4 linked regions of the Homo sapiens genome follow. The protein of the gene in region 4 interacts with the protein of the main gene of each other region in a pairwise test. Each region holds a gene or a part of one and is shown on either strand. Other genes may lie near its edges.

What was found.
Region 1: the proteins of MTIF3 (region 4) and CABP7 interact in binary tests that used the Homo sapiens proteins (3 or more experiments, as listed by UniProt).
Region 2: the proteins of MTIF3 (region 4) and CDS2 interact in binary tests that used the Homo sapiens proteins (3 or more experiments, as listed by UniProt).
Region 3: the proteins of MTIF3 (region 4) and STX6 interact in binary tests that used the Homo sapiens proteins (3 or more experiments, as listed by UniProt).

The regions. Positions count from the first base shown.
Region 1 is NC_000022.11:29,716,040-29,723,027, reverse strand, and holds the start of CABP7 (calcium-binding protein 7), read right to left. Parts: upstream 3,026-6,988; 5' UTR 2,604-3,025; coding exon 2,495-2,603; intron 1-2,494. UniProt on the Homo sapiens protein: Negatively regulates Golgi-to-plasma membrane trafficking by interacting with PI4KB and inhibiting its activity.
Region 2 is NC_000020.11:5,171,999-5,179,023, reverse strand, and holds part of CDS2 (phosphatidate cytidylyltransferase 2), read right to left. Parts: intron 5,502-7,025; coding exon 5,365-5,501; intron 3,842-5,364; coding exon 3,745-3,841; intron 2,377-3,744; coding exon 2,279-2,376; intron 208-2,278; coding exon 68-207; intron 1-67. UniProt on the Homo sapiens protein: Catalyzes the conversion of phosphatidic acid (PA) to CDP-diacylglycerol (CDP-DAG), an essential intermediate in the synthesis of phosphatidylglycerol, cardiolipin and phosphatidylinositol.
Region 3 is NC_000001.11:180,998,863-181,005,887, forward strand, and holds part of STX6 (syntaxin-6), read right to left. Parts: intron 6,602-7,025; coding exon 6,432-6,601; intron 3,839-6,431; coding exon 3,744-3,838; intron 1-3,743. UniProt on the Homo sapiens protein: SNARE promoting movement of transport vesicles to target membranes. Targets endosomes to the trans-Golgi network, and may therefore function in retrograde trafficking.
Region 4 is NC_000013.11:27,440,550-27,447,574, forward strand, and holds part of MTIF3 (translation initiation factor IF-3, mitochondrial), read right to left. Parts: intron 4,608-7,025; 5' UTR 4,539-4,607; intron 694-4,538; exon of another isoform or gene 468-693; intron 1-467. UniProt on the Homo sapiens protein: IF-3 binds to the 28S ribosomal subunit and shifts the equilibrium between 55S ribosomes and their 39S and 28S subunits in favor of the free subunits, thus enhancing the availability of 28S subunits on which protein synthesis initiation begins.

The sequences.
Region 1 (6,988 bases), on a different chromosome or scaffold from region 4:
GGCTCAGAGAGGTGAGCGATTGCCCAAGGTCACTCCATGAGCTGAAGGTGCAGAGACTCAAACCCAGCGCCGCCTGGCTGGGAAGCCCTCATCTTAACTCTGTGCTTCCCACCTCCCTGCCTGGTCCTCCTTTCCGCTCAGACTGACCGCCCCCTGGATTTCTGCGGCAGGCACGTACTGTCTGCAGCATTCCATCCCGGGCTGCCCAGCTCCCTCTTCCTGGCACATGTGGCTCCTCCGCGAATGGCGTCCTCCCGGCAGAGGGCCTGGGTCTCGCCCAGACCGCCCTGGGGCAGGAGCACTCATGAGGCCCTGCAGAGGCGGAGAGGGCAGAGGGGGATCCGTGCCAGGAATGGCCAGCCCTGGCATTCAAGGACTGCTGAAAGGGACCTGGGGCCGCCAGAGGGCTTTTAGGGCACCTGCAGCCAAGAAGGGGGCTGGTCATGGAAAACTTCTTGCCTTCATCTGTAGCTGCCCACTGGGCCAGAGATGAGCTGGGACCACCCAGGCATCTGTCTACTCCATGACCCCACCTGCCCATCCCAGGGAGGGCCCTGCCCTTCAGATGCCCCCTGAGTCAGGGCCCCTCAGCTCCCCAGGGCCCAGGAGAAGGGGACAGGAGAGAAGCGGGGAGGGCACTTGTTGTGGCTGGTGACTAACGCAGCTGGGCTCCTGCCAGCACGCCATGTCGTTGGTTGGGGAGCCTGCGGCCTTGCCCCTGCACTGCCCACCCTGCGGCCCCTCGCCCCTGCAGCCAGCCTCTCAGCCTCTCCCCTTCCTCAGGGAGTGCACTCCAGGACTGGGGATCAGGAGAGGAGGGACCCAGAAAGGGCTGGAGTTGGGGTGGTGGGGTCCTGGTGGGGGTGCTGGGAGCAAGGGGAGGGAGTGAAGCGGAAGCTGCCTGGGGTCTGGGAGACATGGTGACTCCTGCTTGGATGGTCAGGAGGAGGGGATGGATGAGGGCCTCTGGAGGGAAAAATCTGCAGGAGGTTTGAGGTGGCCCAGGGCCGGAGGGGACAAAGGTGGGGAGGAGAAGGCCTATGCTCCATCTCCTGACCTTTCGCCCCCCACCATCGTACCCCTCCTTTCCCCGGGCTCTGGAGGAGGCTCTGGCCCTGGGTTTTAGGGGTGAATGGTGAGGTCATGTCGGGGGGCCCCAATCATCCATCTGTCCTGTCCGCATCAGACCCCAGACCCTGTCTCCACAGCTCTCCCCGCTTCTGAGGGTTTGCAGGGGCAGTTGGTGAGGAGCCTGGTGGCTCATGCCTATGGTGCAGTGAGCGAGGCAGAGGCTGCCTTCTCTCTCTGGATCTTCCCCCGACCCATTCTGACTCCTCTAAGATCTGCCCTCACCCTGGGCCTGGGTTGAGGGAGGACCTCCCTCCATGGCTTCCCCTGGGCTCCCACCATCCTCCCTGACTGTGCTGGTCTTGGCTGCACCCTCCCAGGCCCTAATGAGCCTCCAGATCTCAGAGACCCCTGGATCCAAGGTACCCCGAGAGGCCCATCCTCTGGGTGAGCTCAGCCCCTTGCAACAGCAGACATGCAGATCCCAGGAGGCCGTGACCCCCATCAGCCCAGATCCCCCACTCCACTCCATATGGGGGCTCCAGGAGGTCTGGGGGGAGGGGAAACCTCAGCACCTCCCCCAGCCCAGCAGGGAAGGAGCTGGGCGGGCCCCAGGGGTCTCACTGCTCCTCAGGACACACTGTCCCGGACCCCTGCCCCTGCCCTCTGCTCTGACCTCGCCCAGCCAGCGGCCTGCCATCCCCCTGCGAGTCTGAGAGGCAGGGGGAACGGGGTGGGGGCGGGTTTGGGTCCTGGCCTCTCTGCCTTTCCCTTCCAGGCTTGGCTATCGCGACTTAGCCGCCCAGTCCGGCCACTTGTTGTCGCCACCGCCTCCCGGGCCGCCTTCCCGGCGCGCCGGGCTGGGGGTCCCCGCAGGGCTGCAGGGAAGGGGCTACGGCCGCAGGTGGGGACGGGGGCGGCCCCGCAGCGGGCAAGAGCAGGGCAGTCGCCCTCTCCCCTTCTGCTGCTGCCCGAGCAGATTGAATTTTTAAAGCGACACGAGCGGAATGTCAATGCGAGCAGAGAGCCGCGGGCGGGCGCCGCGGAGGGGATCAGGATGCGGGTGCTCCGGCCGGGCCGGCGCTGGGGGCTCAGCGCGGACCCCCGCCCCAGTCCGCCGCGTTGCCGCACCGTCACCGCCGACTGCGCGGCCCCGTGACCCCGCTGCGGGGCCCGGCAAGTTTCCGCAGCGCTGGGGACCACGCGGGCAGGGGCTGGGCCGCTCTCCGCCTGAGCGACCCCCACCGCGGCGCCCCGGGGTGCGGACAGGTCTTGCCGCGGGGCACAGCTGCTAGCTGGGGCGCCCACCTGGCAACCGGCACCTGCGGACCGCCCCCCGCCCCCCGCCCCCGCGCCCCTGGCCCGCGCTTCACCTGGGCGCACAGGTAGGAGGGCCGCCGGGGCGGGGATCCCGGCGGACACTCACCCTCCAGCTCGTCCTCCGGGATGTCCACCGGGCGCTGCTCCGACAGCAGGTTGGGCACGGTGTAGATGCCCCGGTACATCAACGCCGCCGTCACCGGGTGGAACGGCATCTTGGAGGCTCCGCGCCCGCCCGCCCGCCGCAAACTTTGAGGCCGGGGCTCATGGGCCGGTGGCGGCCCCGGGGGCGGCTGGAGCGGGCGGGGCGCGCGGCTGCGGAGGGCGGCGGCGGCAGCGGCGAGGCTGGGGACGCCCCTCCGGGGGCCTAGCGCCCCCGCGCCCCGGGCCGCCGGGCCATGCCGCCCGCTCCCTCGTCGGGCTCCCAGCCGGGGCCCCGCAGGGGCAGCGGGGGCGGCGCCGCTCTGGCCTTTCCGAGAGCTCCGGCTGCCTCGCGCGGTGCCCGCCGCGCCCGCTCCTCGGTGCCCCGCGCGCTCCGCGCTGCTCGCCGCCCGCTAGTCCGCTCGCCGGCGCGGCCGCTACCGGCCCGGCGCTCAGGCTGTAGCCGCCTCTCCGCTCGCTCGCTCGCTCGTTCTGTGCCGCGCTGGCTGCGCTCCCCGCCTCCCCCGCCAGCCGCCCGCCCGCCCCCTCCGCGCTCCCCACCCCCAGCCCGCCCCTTCCCGCCGCCGGCCCCTGAGCGGCCGCCCCAAACCTGCCCGGGGCTCCTTCTCCCCTTCGGCCCCGATTCCCCTTTCCCACTAGGGCTCCCCTCTGTTCACTGGCTCTCCTCACCCTAAGTCTGCAGCCACCAGGACCAGGGAGGGGGTGGGTTGCGGGGGTCCTCCTTCCTGCCCCTTGGCTCACCTTCCCCCATCCACGCACCAGGAGCGGAGAGCCCGGAACTAAGAACTGTAGACCCAGAGAGGTGAGACTGGCCCCAAGCACCTGGGTCCTCAAGAAGAGTCACCGTTTCCGTGCCAGGAGGATCCAAGGTGGGGAAACTGAGGCTGAGAGAGAAGGACGTTGACCAAGGTCACAGGGCAGGAGCAGCAGGTAAGAGCTGGGTACACGTCTGGGGTAGGCTTCCTGCCCTGCCTGTGACTGACACCCTGCCGCTGACCTTGCTCCCCACAATGGGGCCCCAGTCCCGGACCCTTCCCAAGCCCCTACCTTTCAGCTTGCAGAAGAGGAGCCAAAGTGTCTCATGGCCCCCAGGGCAGTTCGGGACAGAGACATGGCCCGGTGCCTGTGGGGTCTGGTGTGAGGGCCTGCCAGTTCACATGGCTGCAGCTCAGACCTAATGTATGTGCAGGGCTTCCCCAGGCCCCAGGGCACGTCGGCACCCCAGAGCTGGGGTGGGGGCAGGTGTTTGAGGGAGCAGCCTGCGTGTGCATATGTCTGCTATCCATGAGGGTGTGTATGTGCCACTGGGCACGTGCGCAGGTGTCTGTGACTCCATATGCAGATGGACAAATGTCGGGAGTGTGTGGCCACCTGTGTGTGCCAAGGTTGTACGCTGGCAGGTCGGGGGAGGTGTGCAGGCCCTGGGGCTGGGAGTGGTGTGGGCATATGGTGCACAGATGTGCATGGGAGGGGGTGACCTTCTGGCCTGGCTGTGGCCCCATCTCTGGGTGCTTCCCTGAATCCCCCTACTGGGACCACCTCCCTGCCCCCTTTGGCCCAATCAGCTAAAGGTCCCAGCAGGAACGCTGATTGCACAGCCCTGCCCGGTCCTGCCCTGCCCTTCCCAAGCTGATTACACTTTTCTGCTTGTTTCTGTTTTTGTTACTGATTAATCGCAGCCTTGTCTCAGGGTCTGGGGAGAAGGGGCTCAGTGAGAGATGCTAGCCCCAGCCAAGCGGGGTTGGGTCAGCCTGGGCCCAGCACTTCCTGGGCCCTGCTCTGGAGGGAGCTCCTAGAAACATCTATAACCTGCGGAGGAGCCAGGAAGGACACCAGCTGTCTGTCTGTCTCCCCAGACCTCTCCGGGCTAGCTGGTTGCCCACTGGGACCTGGGCCTGGAGGTGAGAGAGGCCCCAGAAAAGCTCCCACCCCACTCCAAAGCTCTCCTTGCCCACCTGTCCCATCTTCTGACCTTCCACCGCTAGAGCTGAATGCCTTGAGCTTCCCCAGTGTTTTTGATGGAGCAGAGACTTGAGGAAGTAAGAACCCAGCACCAAGAGCCAGGCAGACTGGGGCTTCTGCATCCACCATCTCCTCACCATGGAACTACAGTCAGGTCCCTTAACCGGCCATAGCCTCAGTTTCCCTGCCTGTTAAGGTGGCAGTGCCACATCCCAGGCAGCGGTGAGGATGAAGTGACATAATGTAGGAAAGGTGCCGGGCATCACCTCCCTGAAACTCTTGGGAGTTTCCTATTAGCATGAACATCCCCCCCAAGGAATAGGAATTAATAATAATTATAGCTTCGAGTATTGATTGAGAGAGCGAGCCGCAGCAGCAGCTCAGTCGTTCCACGTTTACTAAGTGTCCAGGCTGTGCCAGCCCAGGCCTGTCAGTTCTAAATCAGAACCCCTGGGCCAAGGGAGAGTGGGCTAGAGCCTGCTGAGAGGCTGGCAGGAAACCCAGCTCCCAGTGACTCCCTGGGAGGCCGCTGCAGAGCGTGTTGGTACTCGCCCTGTGAAGGGGAAGCTCCTGGGCTTGCTGTCCAGGTGGGTATTTTTTTTTATTTTTTTAGGTGGAGTCTTTCTCTGTTGCCCAGGCTGGATTGCAGTGGCATGATCTCGGCTCACTGCAACCTCCGCCTCCCAGGTTCAAGTTATTCTCATGCCTCAGCCTCCCGAATAGCTGGGACTACAGGCACATGCCATCACACCCAGCTAATTTTTGTATTTTTCGTAGAGAACATGTTGGCCAGGCTGGTCACAAACTCCTGACCTCAAGTGATCTACCCGCCTTGGCCTACTAAAGTGCTGGGATTACAGGCGTGAGGCACCACTCCCAACCCATGGTGGCTTTTTTTTTTTCAAGTCAAGGGAATTCCAGGGGTCAAGAGGAGGGTGGGCAAAAGCTCAGAAGTGTGAGAGGGCCTCTCTTAGCTCTGAAGGGCAGGTCTGGGTCTGGGTTCTCCAGATCTCCTACGCTTGGCACAGGACTGGAATGGGCTAAGGTGGCTGGGGCTGGATGAACATCTGTCAAATGAATGAACGAGAGAATTAGTGAATGAACGACTGCCCGCTCACCACCGCCCCCCGCCCTTCGGCATTGCAGCCCCGTCCTCTCCTCTGTGCGTCACGGGGGAGCAGATGGCATGATCACAGGGTGTGAATTATGTCTGTCGCTCCCCCATCTGGGGAAGGTGCTGCTGCCATCACACTGCACTCTCTGGGGTGCCCACCGGGAGATGCCTGAGCCTCAGGTCCTCCCAAGAGGGGTTCTCCACAGGCCTTGCTAACTAATCATTGGGTCAGGAGGCTAGAGACACTGGGAGAGGTGACACGCTGAAACCTGTGATTCCAGGGGGGTTCCCCAAGTGGGAAGGAGACAAGGGGAGAGAGGTGGGAACTGCCATGTTCAGAGGCCAGACTCTTCCCTCCCTGAGACTGGAGCCCACTCCTTTCAAGAGCAGCACAGTCCCTGCCCTCCCTGGCCAGAGACCTCTTGTCCGAGGCCAGCATCCTCTTGCCACATTCAGCACCAGGGAGAGCTCCCAGCAGAGCTCAGGGCCCAGCTGTGTAGAGTGAAGCTGTGGAGGGACCCACAAGAGCCGGCCAAGGCTATCAATGAACCCATTGTCCAAACGAGGAAATCAAAGTGAAGAGGGTGTAAGCTTCAAGTTCAAGATCATGCTGGGACCAATAATTGCAGCCCTACCCAAGCCAGGGCTCCTGCTGGGGGAGAAGGTACTGGAGGAGGGGAGGTAGTGGTGGTAGGGAGGGGATGTCCAGGGAGGGCAGAGGCTATGGCCTCTGCTCCTAGGCTGAGGAACAATATTGTTCCAAGAACGCACTGGGGACAGTGTCTGGAGGTGAATAAAATATTCATTGTCCGGGCAAACTCCCGAAGTCAACTAATGAATAATGGAATTTATAGACTCAAAGATGCACACCGGGCTGAGAGGGGGTGCAGGCCAGAACCCAGAGGCCCCAACTGCTCAGATCCCTGCTCTTCTCTGGCTACCCCCCTCTGAACGCCCACATGCCCAGCTCTTGAAGGTGACAGGAGCGGAAAGGACAACAGGGAACAGAGTCCATGTGAGGGAAACAGAGTGAAGGGGACAGGCCCTTGAATTTGTTGCTATTGGGGGAAGGAACTTGGTGATGGGAAAAGAGCACTGGACTCGGAGTCCAGTGCAGCTGGGATGAAGTCTGACCCCTGCTACCAGCTCTATGACTTGAGTGTAGCCCCTGCCCTGGTCTCAGTTTTCGTCCCTGTAAAATGGAGTTTATGCTGCCACCACACAGCTTGCTGCAGGGATCTGCTGAGGTGACAGTGCTTGGTGCTGCTGTCCGAGGCTGGACCTTCTGAGCCTCCCTCTCAGGCTCAGGGCCCAGCTGCGGAGGGTGAAGCTATGGAGGGACCTAGGAGAGCTGGCCAAGGC
Region 2 (7,025 bases), on a different chromosome or scaffold from region 4:
AATTCCTACCTGACAGACATACAAAAACAATACAGACACAAGAAATGGTGAACTGCTTAATGCATACCTATTAGATAGAGAGTAAAGGAAATGAACCGGTGGTATTTACTGAGAATCCGCAAAGGCTCTTCTCTCTGGACCAGGGTGAAGAAGTAATCCGTCACTGTCTCACCATAGAAGAAATAGTTTACACACAGGAGAAAGTACCTGTAAATGAAGACAGGTCATTGCCGTGGGGAGCACCCTTGCCTTCACAGCAAGGCAGTCAGACATCCCAGAGGAAGGGACAGAGGGCAGCAGAATACCCCCCACCCTTGAGTCCCCCGGGACAGCTCACAGAGCAACAGGCAGACCATGGTTTCCTGCTCTCTGGTGACACCGTAGGTGAGAAATTTATCTAGAAACAGACAGCAGCTTTCATTCACTCTCCATTTCTCCCAAACTTGAGACTCCGTTTTTGCCCCTTTTGTAGCATTCCCATACCTAACTGAGGGATCCTTGAACCATATGACCTTCAAAAACACGCCTCATCCTGCTTCCCCAGTCTCGTTTCCACTCTTCCCAACAGGAACTCCTTCACTCCTATCAAAATGGTTTCTTCCGGCTTTGCCACACCTGTCTGCTGTTCTCCTGCCTTTTTCCTGCTCCTGACATTCTCTTTGCTTCTCCATTTCTTCACTCCTTGCTCAAATGCCATTTTATTCATAAAACTTTGCATGACCTAACATGACATCTGCCTCCCCTGCATTTATTTCTATAGCAAGTAATATGTGATTATCTGACTAAGCAATTAATGATGCATCTGCCTCTCTGAAGCCTGGCTCTGACAAACAGACCTTCCATTAGCGTTAACTCTTCACTTGTGTATTCTCTCTCCTCAACTGGCGTTCATGAGAAGAGAAGCCATCCCTTGCAGCCTCCACAGTACTGCTGAGTATGGCACCATGCAGCCATCACTGCAAACCCCCAGCAAGGATCCTGAGATAGAGAAGAAAGTGGAGAGCTTTTCTTTCCCATTCTTTTTTTTAAATTATGAAGTACAAAAACTCCCATATTGGGTTTCTTTTCTGTTACATGGAAAAAACTTTCTTTGTAAAGTGACCACAGCCAGGAGTCAGGCCTCCTGAGTATGTTAACAAAATGCAAAACACTGCTTTCCAGCTAAAGAACAGCCACAAAAGGGACCTGCATCTTAAGCCAGGTGGCAATCCCAATTCCATCTGGAGGCTGGGAGGCAGCCTGTCTGTTGGGTGACAGGAAACACCTCAGGAAGGGGGTGCCCAGCCTACATCTGAGCACATCGGCTTCCTTGACAGTGACCAGGTTGCTGGGGCAAAAACCACTGCTCTCCAGCCGGCTAAGTCATGGCTTCAACCCCTGTATCCCTGCACAGTGGGGTGAGAAGGTCCACATTTGCCCCAGGTCCTCTCAGCATGGTGCAGTGCTCTGCTCAAAAGTCACCACCTGAGAATACTACGGCCAATAAAGCAGAGTTTCAGATCAGAAAGGGGTCTCAGACATGTGTTACAGGTTTTTCTTTTTGCTTTAAGAAAGCTGAATCCTTTCCCAGGAAACGGAGAAAGCCAACTTTCCCAGCGGAGCCCAGATCCCATGCATTCAGCCTCACTCCTGCCCACTCTGGCACTCAAAACACCTCTGATGAAGTAGGGCTCAAACACCACAGTCTGGAAACCAGTAAGTCTCAACCATCTGTCTTAGAGATAAGGAAACCAAGTTCCAAGGATAACAAGCAAAGCCGGCAGCAGAACCTAACAACTTCCAGACAACTCTAGTGGGATGCTGAGATATGACGGCATGAAAAATATACTGATCTAGAAAAACGGGATCATCATGCAGAGTTTAAGGAATCCAAATAGCGAGGCAAACACAGTCACAGAATGCAGCCCATCTGGTTTCTTCTCAGGAAGATTCCAGACTTCAAGTAACTATAAGACTCCTGCAAGGCCAACCACACAGTCTGGCCTATGAAATACTCAGGTCTCAAAGGCACTGTGCGAGTCTGTGGCAATCACCTCTTTTCTCCTGCCTTTTTCTCTTAACTTTCTCTTAACATTCTCCTAACATTCTCTTACCCATTTCTTCACTTATTGCTCAAATACCATTTTCTTCATGAAACTTTGTATGACCTAACATGATAACTGCCTCTCCAGCATTTATCTCTATAGCAAGTGATAGAAATACCCACCGTCACTGTAAGTACCTGCCACAAAGCACATCATCCAAATTCTAAAAGCCTCTGTGGGGCCGGAGAGCTTACCAGCTGAGCGTCCTGAACCAGGGCAGATCATATGAGTGGTAGACGTTGTAGCCAATAGTGATTATCTCATGGAAACACTTAATCTGAACGCACATCACCTGCGGGACACAAAACATTCACTGACACCCCAATTCTTATGATTTTTGGAAATGGAAACCAACAGGTCATGAGCCTTCCAGAAAACCCATTATACTTAAGAAAAATATCGGGCCTCCAGTGGTTCTGCTTCCCTCCTTCTTCCTCTCTCATACCATCCCACAGAGCAATGCAGCCCTCTATGTCACAGGGAGTAGATCCAATTTTCCACTCACAATAAAATACACACCCTGATGTTTCAATTAACTTTTTTTTTTTTAAGACAGGGTTTCACCGTGTTGCCCAGGCTGGTCTTGAACTCCTGGGCTCAAGCAATCCACCTGCCTCAGCCTCCAAAAGTGCTAGGATTACAGGCGTGAGCCACCGCACCCAGCCAAAAGGATTTTTTTTTTAAGTAGAGACGAGGTTTCACCTTCTTTCCCAGGCTGGTCTCGAACTCCTGGGCTCAAGTGATCCTCCCGCCTTGGCCTCTCAAAGTGCTGGGATTATAGGCGTGAGCCGCCATGCCTGACCCTCAATTAACTTTATTCTAAAACCTCCTTTTTAACTTTTTATTCTAGAACCTCCCAGGATTCAACCAATCCATTCTCCTTTTGACTCTGAATACTTGAAAAGTCTCAAGTATTCAAAGTCAAATGCTTTGCTCACATGCAGCTGATGGTCACCTGACCCTGTCCAGGACAGTGGGAAGACAGACAGAGCAGCTCTGTGGACTGGGATTTCCTTAACAAAAGCTCTAAGCCCAGAAGGGAGGCCCCAGGAAAACAGGAAACGAAACCAGGAGTCATATAGAGACATGCCCAGGGTAAAAGTTTACAGAGTTGGAATAATAAAGTCAGTTTTGTTTGTTTGTTTGTTTGTTTTGAGATGGAGTCTCACTCTGTCACCCAGGCTGGAGTGCAGTGGCATGATCTCGGCTCACTGCAACCTCTGCCTCCCAGGTTCAAGGGATTCTCCTGCCTCAGCCCCCTGAGTAGCTGGGATTACAGGCGCGTGCCACCACGCGTGGCTAATTTTTGTATTTTTAGTAGAGACAGGGTTTCACCATGTTGGTCAGGCTGGTCTCAAACTCCTGACCTCGTGATCCGCCCACCTCAGCCTCACAAAGTGCTGGGATCACAGGCAATAAAGTCAGTTTTTTAAAAGAAAAGACACTGAGACATCTTCAACCATAAACAACCAGCCTACACCAATGACCCTCCAGGTGGCTACTGAGAAGTGGGAAGTCACAGATGTTCTATGGCAGAGGTTTTCTGAGAAGCCTGGACCCCCGTCAATTCCCACAACCAACCCAACACCTCGCACTTAAGACAACCGGGCCTGCAGCAAAAACTGAAGGGAAAACTAAAATAGTGTGAAATGGCACTTACGATTATCATCAAAACCATTGGTCCCAGGTAAATGATGATGAAGAAAAATGCAATCATGGCCAAAGTCAGGATGCCTCTCACCCACCAGTTCTTCCATCTAGGTCAGAGAGCAGGGGAAGGAGAAAACACCAGTTAGGAGCCCAGAAAAAAACCAATGCACAAACTCAAGGGATATGGATCTTCCTGAGATGAGGGCCCTGAGCTCAGTCCTTTCCAGATTCACCGTGACGGAGGCACCAGCCACATGCTGGCAGGAGCAGGACCACTAGTACCAATGCCTAAGTCACAACCAAACTTGGCAAAAAATAAACCTAGCTTATATCTTAAAGAAGGTATCAGGCAAAACACAAACAAACAAAAAAACCAAGGGAAATGTAGTGCCCTCTGCTTCTGTATCCACTTGGATGGTTTCTACAGCTGACTATCTGAAGAAAAAAATATTTTTTTCCAGCAGCAGGATCCTACACTGCACTGCCCTGAATAATTATGGGAATAATAGTAACATTATGCAATGATAATAACAGCTACCATAAATATGCATAATTTTTTTTTTTTTTTTGAGACAGAGTTTCCTCTGTAGCCCAGGTTGGAGTGCAGTGGCACAATCTCAGCTCACTGCAAGCTCCGCCCAGGTTCATGCCATTCTCTTGCCTCAGCCTCCCGAGTAGCTGGGACTACAGGCGCCTGCCACCACACCCAGCTAATTTTTTTGTATTTTTAGTAGAGACGGGGTTTCACCATGGTCTCGATCTCCTGACCTCCTGATCCACCCGCCTCGGCCTCCCAAAGTGCTGGAATTACAGGCGTGAGCCACCATACCCGGCCTGAGTAAGGTAATTTTATGAGGACTTTACATATATTAACTCCTTCAATCCTCAACACACTTCGCTTTTACAGATGAGGAAATGGAGGCACAGGTCAAACAGCTGGCAAACAGTAAAGCTGGGATCTGAATCCAAGGGTCTGGCTGCAAAGTCCACGCCCTTAACCACTGCACAATTCAGACTCCCAAGGGGACAGTTGGAGGCACACATAGGAACACTGAGATAATGCTTTGGGGTCTTATAATGTGTTTTTGATCTACTCACATAGCTGTGTTAAAAGAACCAGGTTCTCAAGGGCCAAAAGTTTTAACACTAGATTCACCTAGGTTAAGATGTTTCCCAGTTCTTCCTGGAGAATTTAAGGAACTGTTCACAAAGGATGTGAGAGAAACTAAACTCTGAACTGGAAACGTGGACTCCTCAGTGAAAAGCAGCCTGCCCATTAATCGCAAACCCAAGGCTGGTTTCCTGTGCTGTGCAGTGTCAGCTGACCTCACCCACCTCCATCCCTCCTGTCCCCTCTTCCTCTTTGAACTGCACTTCCTAGTCCAGTCTGAAGCACCCTTCCGGGGCCAGATCCTTCCAGCCTTGGTTGCCCTCCCCTCCTGGTCACTGTGCTCACTGCCACTGCTAAGCACTAGATTACACTCAATGGAGCCTGGAGCAGTGGCATGGGAGGCTGAGGCAAGACAGCGGGCCTGCTCTGCAAGACCACGGGCTCTCTGCAGGCTCTTCCAGGGCACTTGGACATGGTGCAAAGCCCCCAACAAGCACCTGCATCATTAAGCCAGGTTACCTTGAAGACAAGTTGGAAAGGGCCCTATTGAGGACCTCCGGGGTATCATCTGCAGAGACTGGCAGGGGTGCGGATTCTGCCCGGCTCTCACTGTCCGATGCAGTCTCTCCATCTACCTTTGCTTCTGACTCTGACTCCTAAGTGGCAGAAATACAGAAGAGAAAAAGGTCAAAAGTGCCGAGTAGACCATTGAGAAGTCTATGCCTGTCATGAGAGATCTGTGGGGAAAGACTCCAAACAGGGCCTAAGAACCTGGCACAGTCAGGTGATGGGACTGACAGGACTAGCAGCAATCCTGACACTGTTGTGACATGTGCCAAGGTGGCCAGCCACACTCTGCTGGAAGAGAGGTGTGCATCTGCACCGCGTACCATCTGCTTAACCGCAGAGGGCAGATCCAAAAGAGAGAGAACATGGCTCCTTTGTATCCAAAGAATGCAAAAGGGAGGCTGGGACCGGTTTTAACAGGAGGTTATCCCTGAGCCTGCTAGGGCAGCCAATGGCACTGACCAGGCTCTCTCAGGGGAAGCCAGGTGGTGAGGCTGTTGCCCCTGTAGACCTGTTAATGTCAACATGTCCCAAGTCCAGAGTGTTATTTCCGGACTTCACTAGAGCACTCTGTGAGGAGGTCAATCACAGTCAGTGTGGACAACGAACCAGACAGCCTACTCCAGACAACGCTCGAGCCAGGACTGGTGCACCTCAGTCCTTTCCCTGCCACCAGGCCCTGGGTGACAAAAGACCCACAGGAAGTCACCCTGCTCCCAGCCTGGGTGAGGGAACCAGAGCCATGCCAGCAGCAAGCTCTTTACCCAAAGTATCAAGGGACAGGCTATTCTGAATCCTAGGAACCATCCTACCACTCAAGTATTTTCTTTCATAGGGGAATTCAGAATAGTTGCTATGAGAAGAGGTGGAGGAGAAAGTAAATCACTTAGAGTAACAACACTACTTAGTATCTGTATAGCCCTGCAAGGTCTGAAGAGCCTTTCCCATGCAAGCTTCAGAGCAGTACTGGGAGGAAGGGAAGGGACAGGAGAAGCCCCATTTACAAATAAGAAACGGGATCTGGGAAGTTCAATGCGTGGCCCAATGTCTCATATTAACCCAGGTCCTCTGACTTCCCTGATGACTGATGAATACACGGAATTGTGACTGTCTCACATGTTCACTGGCCACTTGGTATCTTCTGTCAAGTGTCTGTCAAATCACTGGCTAGTTTTTCTACGGAGTTTTCTGCCTTCCTTTTTTTATTGATTTGTAGTGGTTTATGTGCTCCAGATTTGAGTACTTTGTGTTACTAATATGTTCTCTCAGACTGCTCTAACCCCCACCTTCACCTCAGGCGAGGTTAGACACCCCAGTGATTTGCTCTCTTAACACTAGAACCTTCTCCCTCTCAGCGCTGACCACAACGGGGACTTTTGTAAATGTCTCCTTGGCTGACGACAAACTCCTTAAAGACAAGAACATAACTTCTTGTTCTCATTATCCCCATGCACGGCACACAGCAAAACACTTACTAATGGATGGAAGAAGAGAAGAATTAGGTCCAGGTGTGTAAAGAAAAACCCAGCCCCTGCCCTCAGGGAGACAGCTCTTTCTAAATTAATTTACAACTGTGACAAGACAGAGGGCCTTAACTAGTGCAGATGAGCAAA
Region 3 (7,025 bases), on a different chromosome or scaffold from region 4:
AACCAGCAGTCAAGCAACAAGTCCCAATAAAATATGGTTCATCTGCCAAAGGAACAACAAATGTCCTGGTTATTTATGCTTCTGTTCCCATTTCACACTGTCTTCCAAGCTGAATGAATGAGACATCATAAACCCCAGTGCTTCCCACTCATAATTCTTACATTTCAAGGTCATCTGTGCTCACACTGGATACTTCACCCTTTTTGATTAACCAAAGCCATTTCCATCTTGACTTACAATTGACTGTAAACAATTCTTACATTGGAGCAGGTTCGGTTTTTTCATGGAGAGGGTAATAGTTCTAACTTTTAAAGTCAGAGAATGTTAGTGAGGATTATTTCATAGATAAAACTGAGATCCAGGGAGGTTGAATGACTTACCATGGTTAAGATTTATTAAGGTCACAGCTTAGCCTAGAACTCAGGTTCCCTTACCCCTTATATTCACCATTATTCTGCCATATACTGCAAAACCTCTTGATCCTAAAGTAAAACCAAAGTCACTTCTAGGATATATTTCTAAAACACAAAAATTTCACATGTGGAATCTTTGATGTATAGGTGACTCCACAAGAGTAAAAATGATTACCTCAAAAATATGAAAGCTATTTACACAAAAATGTGAGTATTTTGGTTCTTCACTAAAAACTGCCAGCAAAACTGGATTTGTACAGACTTAAAAGATGCTTGGAAAAACATACACAAAACTCTAAACAAGGAAAGCTTACTAAAGGCATAACCAATGGACATTAATCAAGAAGAAACAGGCGATTTACTTCTTCAGGTTGAAGCAAATAAAGAAAAAAAAAACCACAAAATGCATAGAGTATCACTGACTCCCCTGCCTACAAAAGAGAAAGCATAAGTAGAATACACTGTTTGAAAGATAAAGTCAATCAAAATTTTGGAGCAATATTAAATGAAAGCCCACTAGTAATAGTAACAGAAGAACTAACATAAATTTGTACAAATTCCTAATTTGAACTTCATTTCATCTCATTTTCCAAATCTGCTAACCCTCTGCTCCCTCTCTATCGAGCTCTTCCACCCAGAACCCAGAAATCTCTACATACAAACACTGTTTAGCTAAATGTGGTAATGTGGAATTATACAAGGTATATTTTATTTTTAATCGAGTTAGCACCATTGCTATTTCCTCCTCTTCTATAGGACTTTCAACTAGAATTTATTACAATCAGATCAGCAAAAGCTCAGTTAGGTACTGTTAGCCTACCACTGGTAAATACTAACAGCTTCCCCCAAAGGGGTCATAAATTTAAACAAGAATGATTTAAAACCCTAAAATATTCAGGTGGATCACATAGTTGAGTATGGTTTAGATCTCAACTCTAAAAGGACAGTAAGATTTTGAAGTACTGACTTGATTTGGAATACCTCTCATTACTCTGTTCTCACATTGCTATAAAGAACTGCCCGAGACTGGGTAATTTATAAGAGAAAGAGGTTTAATTGACTCACAGTTCAGCATGGCTGGGGAAGCCTCAGGAAACTTACAATCATGGCAGAAGGAGAAGCAAGGCAACTTCTTCACAAGGCAGCAGGGAAGAGTGACAGAGCAAAGTGGGAAGAGCCCCTTATAAAACCATCAGCTATCATGAGACTCACTCACTATCATGAGAACAGCATGTGGGAAACTGCCCCCATGATTCAATTACCTCCACCTGGTCTCTCCTTTGACACATGGGGATTATGGGGATTACAATTCAAGATGAGATTTTGGGTGGGGAAACAGCTAAATCATATCAACCTCTTTCTAAGAATGTACTTTAAAAAGCTTTTCAGATATTAGAAAATGAACTTTGGATTCTTCTTTCCATTATACCAATGAACTTAATTTTTAATATACGAACCTCTAAATTTCAATTTGCAAACTTCCTAAGTCTACCTTGCAGAAATAAATATAATGATTAAGGTTAAGGACATATGCTTCACTGCAAGGCCCCACTTAAATATTAACGTCTATAGGAGTATCCTTCAAAAAACCTACTACTACAAAAAAAAAAAAAAAAAAGCTTATACAAAATAATTGGGGATTTACTTATCTTACAAAAAATATGTCACCTAACAACAAGGCTTCCTCATCAGAACAGTATTTTGAACTGGCTAGAAATTAAGAATGTCCAATCCAAACACTCACTGTGGATGGGGCATCTGAGGTCCAGAAAGGTTTCTCCCTCATTAAAATGTGGGTTTATCTATAAACAATTTACGTATATGTATATAGAAAGGCAACTAATGAATAAAACAAGTAACAAGAATATATAAAGTTCAGTGATAATCTACCATTTGAAATAATTTCAAAAGGAAATCACATGATATAAAGACTTTGGCAAACACAAACTAAGGTTCCTGCCTAAGATGACTCTTAAAAAGCCGTATGTTAGCACTGGTATGATCCCAAGTCTTTTTATTCAAGGAAGCTGCTTTCTAGTACATATGTTAAAGACAGCTGGTTCTCTTACATCTAGTTATGCTAATCAAATGGCTTAGCCATATAGTTTCAAAATATGAAACATTTTAATGACACAAGATTGTACTTAATATTTTTTCTCAGATTCTTTAATAATGGGTATTATTCTAAATAACTTAGAACTAAAGATTTGTTCACTTGGATCAATTTTTTACACTCTGATAGATGCTTGTTTGCTCTGGATAACTCTGGAACGGCTGTCAAGTAGTTACATATGGAAATGTCAGTATCTTGGGTTGCAAGAGTTCCAGAAGCAATTCAGATGGCGGAAGAGGCCGCTATCCAAACCCACTAAGAGTCACTCTTCAACAATGCGAAGTGATTACCAATCAATCAAAAAACCAAATGGTTTCTACAATAGCAATTGTTTTGTTCGTCAAGAAATAGAGTACACTAAGAAATAAAAAGTGAGAAAGATAACTAGCTTGAAGAAACTAGAGGTATGGACAAGGGTCTAATCATTCAGGATGACACCATTTGAATGTACCCTGCCCAAAGCCAGCAGATTACTGTCTCATTTTTGCTCTCGGAAATAAGCCTGACAGGCTGGGCATGGTGGCTCACGCCAGTAATCCCAGTACTTTGAGAGGCTGAGGCAGGCAAACTACTTGAGTTCAGGAGTTCAAGACCAGCCTGAGCAACATGGTGAACCCTGTCTCTACAAAAAATTAGCCTGGTGTGGTGGTGCACGCCTGTAGTCCCAGCTATTTGGGAGGCAGAGGTTGTAGTCAGCCAAGATCATGCCACTACATTTCAGCCTGGTCAACACAGTGAGACCTTGTGTCAAAAAAAGAAAGATTAAAAACAGATTTCTTTTTCTTCAATCACGGAAATTTTTTTTTTTTTTTAAGGTACAGTGACGTGATCATAGCTCTCAGCCTCAACCTGATCCTCCCACCTCAGCCTCCCATCTTGGTCTTCCATGTAGTTGAGACAACAGGTGTGCACCACCATGCCCAGCTAATTTTTATATTTTTTTTTTGTAGAGACAGGGTTTCATCATGTTGCCCGGACTGGTTTCAAACCCCTGGGCTCAAGTGATCCACCCACCTCCACCTCCCAAAGTGCTGAGATTACAGGCATGAGCCACCATGCGCAGCCAATCAGAGAAATTATATATGGGGAAGCTCACATTTAATTCATATTTAAAAAGTGGTTTCAGAGGTGACCTATTAGTTTACAATTAAGGGAAAGAGCTCTAAGAAGTCTGGCTATTTCTTATACAGATAACACAATAAGATCATATTCCTTACCCTGACAACTTGCCGAGTACTTGTAATGAAGGCTTTTCTTATACTCAATTCAGTTGCATCAAGGTTAAATTTTCTAGGATTTGCTTCAACTATGCGTAGGTCAAAAAGTCAAGGTAAAACAATTTCATCATCAAAGCCTGACAACATCCTGTTAACTCACTGAATCTCTCACATGCAAACAAATAAAATCTGGCTCAAACTTTCTGAAAACACAGTCAGCTGGACACCAATCATTCTCAGACTTCCTCTGCCCACAGCCACAGGAGGGAGGATCCCTTTGCTCCAAGACAGAGATGATCTGTCTGGTTAGGAAGCATAGCCCCTGCTGATGAGCTTCACTGCAAACACTTAGGGCTATCTGACCACAGGTGAGCTGGGCTCTTCCTGTTTGCCAACACTTGTGTCTATCCTTTTTTGACTCCTGATCACCTTTACTAAGACAGCTTTTGCAAGCCTTTTTCTCCTGCCATTCCAAACCACTTCCCATTATGCCAAGATGCTAACCCTACTTCTTAATCTAGAGAGATCGGGCCTTCTTCAGAGAAGCTGCCCTCATTCCCTTACCCTCTAGCCTGGTCCGACGCACCATGTCAGACACTTGCATAGCTCTCTATACTTCTCGTTCATAGTCTGCAGGTATCTATTTGTGTTATTACTTGATTACCATCTGTCCCCCATCCCTATCCACTCAAAGTTCTGTGAGGGCTGGTATAGTGTTTATTAATCTAATCTCTGTAACCAACAAAATGCCTGGCACATAGTATACTCAATAAACACTTGCTGGTTGAATGATGAGTATCTATTAAAACTTTTGTTTTTTTAATCTCACATTTTCTCTATCTCCCCTAACTTTTTTTCCTTCCCTCCTTTCTCAAGGGAAGAATTATCTCCCTGTAACTGTGCTTTTGATCCTGCCCCCTCACATATTTGCCACTAATTTTAGAGAACATACTTGCCTTTTAATAATGTAAAAGGTACCAGGGTCATCATGAATAACAAAAATTATTTACTCCATGTATCAACTGCATACGAACCTGTGCTAACTATAAGGTGATCCTGACAGAAGCTGGTTTCCTTATGTTTTATCTCACTTAGGGAAAAAACAAAACAGAACTCAGAACATGCAAGTGGCATATCTTCCATCTAAAGTTTTGGTTAAGTGGGATTTCCAGTTGGAAAAAAAGGCTATATAATGAAGTTTTTACAGTTCTCCAGTGCATGAGTCAGATCAGTGGACTTACTTCACATCAATACCATGAATTAGCAGAGCAGATCTGCTTTTACTAAATGCAGTTTCATGGAACAAGACATCTCTTCAATGGACGGTAGCACTGTAACATCACTTCTTAAACATGAAGACAGTCTACAAAAAGATTTTTTGATCTCTAATTACCGAAGTGTAACACTGGCCTGTATGGACCTCTATATGATAATGACTGCTAACACTATTACATAAGCTGTGTGCCAGGTGCCATTCTAAACTCTTTACCTGTATAATCCCAATAATCCTATGAGCTAGGTACTCTTGTTATCCTAACTTTCCACTAAAGAGGAAACGGAAGCACAGGAGGTTAAGTGATGAGCCCAAGTCACATGGTAACTGGTTGTGATACTGTAATAAATGCAAATTCGGTCTCTGCCCCCTCATTTCTGGCACACAGCTCCTTGATCCCTTGGAATCTCCAGATGAGTATCTTTTGTATGTTAATGGGATAATTGATGGCTGGGGGTTTCTAGATAGCCTCAGGACGAGGGGCTGGTCCCCAGAGAAACCAACCATGTGATTAGACAGTTGAAGCTTTCAGCCCCCTGCTTAACCCCACCCCAGGGGAAAGGGGCTGAAGGCTGAGCTGATCACCAATGGCCAACTGATGTGATCAATCATGCCTGCGAAATGAATCCTCCACAAACACCAAAAGGACAGAGTTCAGGAAGCTTCCAGATAGGTGAACATGTGGAGGTTCCTGGAGGCACCTGAAGAGGGCCTGGAAGTGCTGCACCTTTTCTCCCATACCTTGCATGCATCTCTTCCATCTGGTCATTCATCTGTATCCTTTGTAATATCCTTTACAACAAATGGATAAACCTAAGGAAACTGTTTCCCGGAGTTCTGTGAGCTGCTCTTGCAAATTAAATTAATTCGATCTATGGAGGGGGTCGTGGGAACTCCAATTTATACGTGGTCAGTTGGAAGCGCTGGTCACAACCTAGGGCTTGCAACTGGCATCTGAAGTGGGGGCAGTCTTGTGGGACTGAGCTCTTAACCTGTGGACCTGATGCTATCTCCAAGTAGACAGTGTCAGAAATATCATACTGACTTGAGTGTGAGGGTAGAGACTTAAAAAAAAAAGAAAAAAAGGGTTTTTTTTTTTTCCCTTTACATTGGTGGAGGCAGGACTTGAACACCAGAAATCTGACTCCAGGGTCCACAGTCATAATCATTACACTATGCTGCCTTTATATATATATATACATTTATAGTACAGGATTTGTCACACACTGTATAAGAATTTGGCTACTGTACCTTAAGTTACTGGGCAAATACTTTAAACATGTCATGGTACAAGTAAGAGCAACAAACATTAATCGATTATAAAATGTTTCATCTACATACTGGAAACAACTGGAGAAAAACTTGTCCATTTGTCTATTTATCCCGAATGGCACAGACACCACAGAAAAGGATATTGATGGTTTCATCAAGGTCCTCTAGATCCCACTCTATGCTCCGGAGGTTATTTCTCAGCTCGTTGGTGGTCCAGTCGATTTCTTCCCTTGTTGCTGTGGAGGGGTCCTGGAGGAGCTCTGTCCATCTCTGAAACAATCCCTGGGCAGTGTTGACTGCTTTCTGTACCTCTCTGTAATCAAGATGAGGCAAAGGAGAGAAATCACAGACAACATTCCATGGTCAAGTTACTGCATGATTTAGGTTAACATTTATGATCATACACCATCCTCAGCAACCACCATTCCCACAGAAGGCTCTTCACAGACAAATATCAAAGTTCAAAACTTTGATACACAGTCTGAGTATTATGTTCTCAGCTGATGCTTGGAATACAATAGCCATTATTTAAGCAGCTACAATATCAAGTTTGTTGGGGAAGGACAAATTTAATATTTTTCTCTGAACAGACTATACGTAAAAGTATAATGAAGCAATCCTACAAATTAACTAAAGGGCAATGAGCATTCCCACATGCTTCCACTTGGTGTGACAGTATTAATAATTTATACTCAGATGATAAGTCCTAATATGGCCTTTCTTTTCTTGGTGTGGGA
Region 4 (7,025 bases):
TAACTGCAAGTGTGAGGGAAATGCTGTTCTCTAGACTTTCAGATCCACACACAGGAAGTCTACACTGATAAAGCGGACTAGCAGGTGACTCTGGCCAGACTAACTCATGGTGATACTGTCCCCAAGACAAGTGGCTATTAGAATAAACCAGATTTACATAGCATTTTGGTTTCACTTTTTTTTTTTTTCTGTACACATGATCTCATTTGACTACTTAGTTGACCCCTGAACAACTTGGGAGTTAGGGAAACAGACCCCCTGTGCAGTTGAAAATCTGTGTATAACTTTGACTCCTCAAAAACTTACTAATAGCTTACTGTTGACTGAAAGCCTTATGAATAACATAAGCAGTTGATTAACACATATTTTGTATGCCATATGTATTATATACTGTATTCTTACAATACAGCAAGCTAGAGAAAAGAAATGTCATTAAGAAAATCATAAAGAAGAGAAAATATATTTACTATTAAGTGGAAGTGGATCACCATAAAGGTCTTCATCCTCATTGTCTTCACATCAAGTAGGCTGAGGAGGAGGAGCAAGAGGAGGGGTTGGTCTTCTCTCAGGGGTGGCAAAGGTGGAGGAAAATCCACATATATGTGGACCCCATGCAGTTCAAACCTGTGTTGTTCTAGGATCAACTGTATTTCTCATGCATCTTGTAGTGCCAACTCCAAAAGCGAGTGTCATCTTAGGGCTTTATTTATGAGGATGCAGTACATAAAATGCTTGGTGATTCATAAACACCAATTGATAAACTTCTAATATAATTAACTGTTAACAATTTTTCAATACATCTGATGGTATATAGCAGATAGGAACACACTATGGGAAAGGGACCTCTCCAGGAAGGAAGCCAGCCCACTGCAAGAATAACTGAGCCTGTCAGAAAACACTGTGACATAAATCAAAGTGCTAACCTCATAAACTATAAAGATCATTCTCAAGGTAAGGCAGGTGTTAATTACTACCAAATGTTAACAGAGGCATGTATGGTGACAGTGGTTTTACTTCATGGTTATGAGACTGAATTTGAAGCACTTACAAATGGCACATTGATTTTTTAATTGCTTTTCTGTCCTTCCATTCATGTATTTGGTAAATCTTAGAAGTACAGGCTGAAAGAGTGCTGAGAGGACCCATTCATCTCATCTAGGGCATGCTAGGAATCATTAGAGAATCACAAACTTGGAGAGGTGTGACTTGTCAAAGATGAAAGAGGAAAACAGAAGGTGTCTTCAGGGTGCTTCTCAAAGAATGGTCCCAGAATCTCCTGGGGTGTTTAAAACTGGAAGTTCCCTCTGGTCCCTGGCTTTGAGCCCACTGGGCTGTACAACCCACTTATCTCTCACCTGTCATGTTCAAGAGTGATATGCAAAAAAATATGGTAAATTCAACAGAAAGTGATGGACATGCATATTCTCAACACCCTCCTTACCTAGTTTGGTAACACCCAACACTCTAATTTATAGCTCTGGTGCCAGTCTCTTCTCTTGAGTTCCACACCTGTAGGGTTAACCGCCTACCCAACCTCTCCACTTAGATATGTAATAGTCATTGAGGATTAACGTGTTCAAAGTTCAATGCTTTGCCTTCCATGCAAAACTTGCTCCTCCCTCAGTCTTCCCTGTCTCATGTAATTGCAACACATTCTTCTGGTTGCTCAGGCCAAAAATACCAACGTTATCCTTGACTCTTTATTTTCTCTCAGCAACCCATCCGCAAAACCTACCGTTCAACCAGTATAACCACTTCTCACCTTCTCTACTGCTATCATCCCACTCCCAAACCGCCGCGCCGCTCAACTGCATCACAGTAAAACCGCATCACAGTAACAGCTTCCCGACTGCTCTTCCTGCCTCTGCCCTCACAGCCTGGAGTTTATTACTGCTAGGGCACACAGAGCAATCCTTAAAAATGCGTAAGTCAGATCACGTTCCTCCTCTGCCCACACCCTCCCCTGGCTAGTATCTCACTCCAAGTAAAAGCTAAGCTCTCTACCATGCCCACTGGCCTGTGCCGACCGTACTTCTTCTGGCTCACTCTGTTCCAGCCTCCTTGCTGTTCCTTGTGAACAGTGAACACACCCCTCCTCTGGGTCCTGGCACCCAGAAGTTCTCTCTCCCTGCAACACTCTTCCCTCAGATAGCCTCATGGTTCATTTACCTCGTCTCTGCTCAAACGCTACCTACTCAGCGAGCCCTTCCCTGACCCTTCCATAAAAGAGCACACCCCAACACTCTCAAACCCATTACCTTGCCTTTTAAAAACTTTACTGCATTCATCACTGCTGGACACATTCTATATTTATTTGCATATATGTTCATAATCTTTCCTCACTGGAATGAAAGCTTCATGAGAACATGGACTTTGTCCATTTTGTTCACTGCTGTGTTCCCCGGCACTACAGCTCAGAGCCTGGCTCAGCATGCACATGTCGAATGAATGCACGGGCCGAAGGAAACAGCCAAGGAGCTATGGCAGGGCTGCTGGCATTTAACCTCTACACCTTCGGATGTGTCACGAATGCCTACAAACTACACCCTTCACATTTCTAGCTGGCATTTCAGATGCCCGTCAGTAATGGTGAGTATCTGTGGCCAGATGCTCCATCCACAGTGTATGACATGCATTGATTTATGGTTATTACCCAGCTGGTGGCTCCAGCTGTAGATGCTGTAAAGGCTCTAAGGTGGGAGCAAAGTGATTTTAAATCACTGACATACTGTTTAATAAAAAGTCAGATCTTTTGTGAATGGAGGAAGCCCCCAAACCAAAAAAGAAGAAAAATCTGAAAAGATCACAGAAGATTTTTTTTTCACTTATCAGAAAACTAGCAGCAGCATCCAGTCCCAAATGTCACTAGGTATTCTGCTAGGGGACTCTTAAGTTCCTGCTCACAAGCCTGCTCTATAAACTTTATGTCTAAAATCAGTGTTGTTTCTTTCCAAAGTCTGTATTAGCGACAATGATGTAGAAGTTATCACATGTAAAATCATGTTACTAAATAGATAGATATAAATTCTAATATTCTTGATATATACAGTAGACAAAACAGTTCACTGCAATTAAGCTTTAATACTAACTCAGTACTGGCTATCTTTTTCCCTTAGTAGTTATGAATAAGAGCTAAAGTGCCTTGTTTAATAAATTATCAACATATTAAAATATAAAAAATTTCAAAATTTGATTTTTTTCAAACAAGCAAACAAAATAACTAGATATAGGAAAAGATGAAAAAAATTTATAAAAATGTTGAAGACAAAAGCAATTCATTCCCCTATTTTTCCTAATTGCCAGTATTTCTCAAGTTTTTTTATAAGTGTTATTTTTATACTTGAAAATAAATTTTATTTACAAAATAAAGACTATTTCAGAAAAATGACGTAGGTTTTTTAAAAAAGCTTTAAAAACACTTTCCAAGAAGGAAACAAAGGAAAGGGAAAGAATAGAAAAACACTGGAAGTAGGGCCGGGTGCAGTGGCTCACGCCTGTAACCCCAGCACTTTGGGAGGCTGAGGTGGGCGGATCACAAGGTCAGGAGATCGAGACCATCCTGGCTAACACAGTGAAACCCTGTCTCTACTAAAAAATAAAATAAAAATTAGCTGGGCGTGGTGGCGGGCGCCTGTAGTCCCGGCTACTCGGGAGGCTGAGGCAGGAGAATGGCGTGAACCCGGGAGGCGGAGCTAGCAGTGAGCGAGATTGCGCCACTGCACTCCAGCCTGGGCGACAGAGCGAGACTCTGTCTCAAAAAAAACGAAAAAAAAAAGAAAAACACTGGAAGTATATAACTTTTAAAGTTCTTTGCCACTAGTTTAAATTTTTAAGAAACTTCAATTTTTATTGATGTATACAGCAAACAATGCAATTCATTGCAATTAAGCTTTAATACTAACTCAATACTGGCTTTAAATCAGCAAAATTGAAAATATACGTTTCTTCAAAACAGGCCCTTATAGATAAAAATATAAATACAAAGTTAAAACAACCTGTAATATTACATTTAAATTGCAGCTATCAACATAAATTCATAATTTAAAAACTTTTTATTAGGGAACTTTTTAACCTTGTACAGAAAGAACTGGATAATAAACAGCAGCTGGGTTTCATCTTTACCCCTCAACTATCTCCCCCCAACCATCCAGGAATGCTTTCAAAGTAAATCCTACTTTTTCAGGAAATAGTATGTATCTCTAAGAGGTACTCCTTAATCTTTTTAGTATTCACAATATTATCCCAATTAAAAAACGTTCCTTTATTTCATCAAATATTTAGCTTTCAGATTTCCATGATGGTATTATGATTTTGTTTGTTTACATGTCATTTACAGTTTGGCAGCATGAAGAGACTCCCACTGGTCAATTTTGGTGTAATTTAAACAGTAAGGCATAATCACTGTCATTCATTTCAATATACTGAATATACAAAAATCTATGAAAATGATAATTTGCCACAACTGCATGGGACTATTATATTGATTTTTTACTTTGAAAATTGCTAATTAAATAAAAAGAACTGAGCATTTATCCTACCTTTTTTAGGAAGAACTGTAATCATCCCCAGTTGATGAGGAGAAGCTCTTCTGTAGAGAAGAATGACAGCTAATAAACACAAAAGAAAAGTAAAAGTAATTAGAAAATCATGCCACGCACGATGTCTCACACCTGTAATCCCAGCACTTTGGGAGGCCAAGGCGAGAGGATCACTTAAGGCCAGGAGTTTGAGACCAGCCCGGGACACACAGCAAGACCCAGTCTCTACAAAAAATAAATTAGCCAGGTGTGTTGACACGCAACTGTACTCCCAGCTACTGGGGAGGCTGAGGAAGGAGGTTCACTTGAGCCCAGGAGGTTGAGGCTGCAGTGAGCTCTGATCACACCACTGCACTCCAGTCTGGACAACAGAGCAAGACCCTGTTTCAAAAAAAAAAAAAGAAAATCACCATTTTTCCAACCCCAACGAAACTACTGATTCAGGCAGGATGCAAGAGAGCTGATGCCAAAGGGTCACAAACAGATTACTTTCAGACTGAGAGGGAAAAGCACACTCTGCTGAGGGTAGACAGCTGTCTGTCATCCTAAGCCAACGTCAGACTCAGCATCTCCAACAGTGGAACAACCTGCCATCCTTGCCACATCTCTGGATGGGAAGCTACCCAAAGTGCATGGCACCTTCTATTAAGCAGCTTTGCCAAAAAGGTTTGACCTGAACCTGATGCAGGGTCTAGCTTCCAGTTTCCAGGGGATACAAGGGCCAGACTCAGAGAAACAATAGAAGATGCCACAAGGAAACAATCTGACAAATCCAGATGGAACAAGACACCTGGTTAGTGTCTAAAAAAGCCAATGCCATTGGGAATGAAAAGGGAAGAGGGAAGCTATTCTTGAGTGAAAAAAAAAATCAAGGAGACATAATTTTGCTGAAAAGAAATGTTGGGAATGAGGGGAAAATCTGAATAGGGACTAGGTATTAGATACTATTAGAGACGTATTGTTAATTTTCTTTTTTCTTTTTTTTTTGAGACAGGTTCTCACTCTGTCACCCAGACTGGAGTGCAGTGGGGCAATCTCGGCTCACTGCAACCTCCGCCTCCCAGGTTCAAGTGATTCTCCTGCTTCAGCCTCCCAAGTAGCCGGGATTACAGGTGTGCACCACTACCGCCTGGCTAATTTTTGTATTTTTAGTAGAGATGGGGTTTTACCATGTTGGCCAGGCTGGTCTCGATCTCCTGACCTCAAATGATCCACCTGCCTTGGCCTCCTGAAGTGTTGGGATTACGGGCGTGAGCCACGGCACCCGCCTGTTAATTTTCTTAGGTGTGAAAATGGAATTCTTAAGAAACAAATGCTGAAGTATTTAGGATAGTGTCATGACATCTATCACTTGCTTTGAAACCATACAGCAGAAAATATAAACAATGCACTTACGGCAGCATTTGCTAAATCTAGGTTATGGTTATACGGGTGTTCAATAATTAATACATTTTTAAAGAACAAATCAATAGCCTAGAGGGAGGAATGGTTCACTGGTAATGCCAATGTAACTATTCTAGTCTGTGTAAGTTCTAAATTTCACTGTAATTTAATACATTGACATTCTGGCTTTGTACATAATTTTAAAAAATATTCCCTTTATTCGTTTCAAGCCTATATCTAAGTGACCCATAAATAAGGAACTTTATAAACTTAAAATTCTGATTTTTTTGTAATGCATAGTGCCTTTATTTCTTCATTTAGTTTTCCTTAAACTCAGGTCTAAAAGTCTCATCATAAATGGTGATGGGGGCGGATGGGAAGGAGGCTGGCATAAAAAAAGTACACATTAGGTACAATGTATACGATTCGGGTGATGGTGCACTAAAATCTCAGAATTCACCACTATATAATTCGTCCATGTAATGAAAAACCACTTGCAGTCCAAAAGCTACTGAAATAAAAATTTTAGAAGAATAAAACAAATGGTGATGGTTTCAGTTTGAGGCAGAACTTGTACAATTTTTTGCTAGTGAACGGTTAAAAGTTAACTGGTCTACAATGGGGTGGTGTTTCTCAGAAACCACGGCCTGTCGGCATCACCTGGGGATGCTTTTCAAAACACAGATGTTTCCTCTTCCCTATCCTGTTCAGAACCAGTGGGTTAGGCCAAAAAAAAAAAAAAAAAGATGAACTTTAAGAAAAAGAGTAAGAAAACACTATAAGTGGGGTCAAGGGTAGTTTGAGCTAGGATGCCTGAGACTACCCCTAACCTTTCAAAGTTGAATAAAAATAGGAAGCCATGTTCTCTGATGAAAATCTCTGATGCCTCTGTGAGGTAAACAACACTAGGCTGAAGAGGCCAGGAGACTAACTCAAAATAGAAACAAACGCTTACGTTCTTATGATAATCCTGTTGCATTTGCTGCACTCACTCCCACAACTATACTCTCCGAGACAGCCACAATATTCTAAAAACCAATTATCTTAATGTCAATTACTTATAATGCATAACTTTATAGTATGATATCCATTTTTAATTCGATG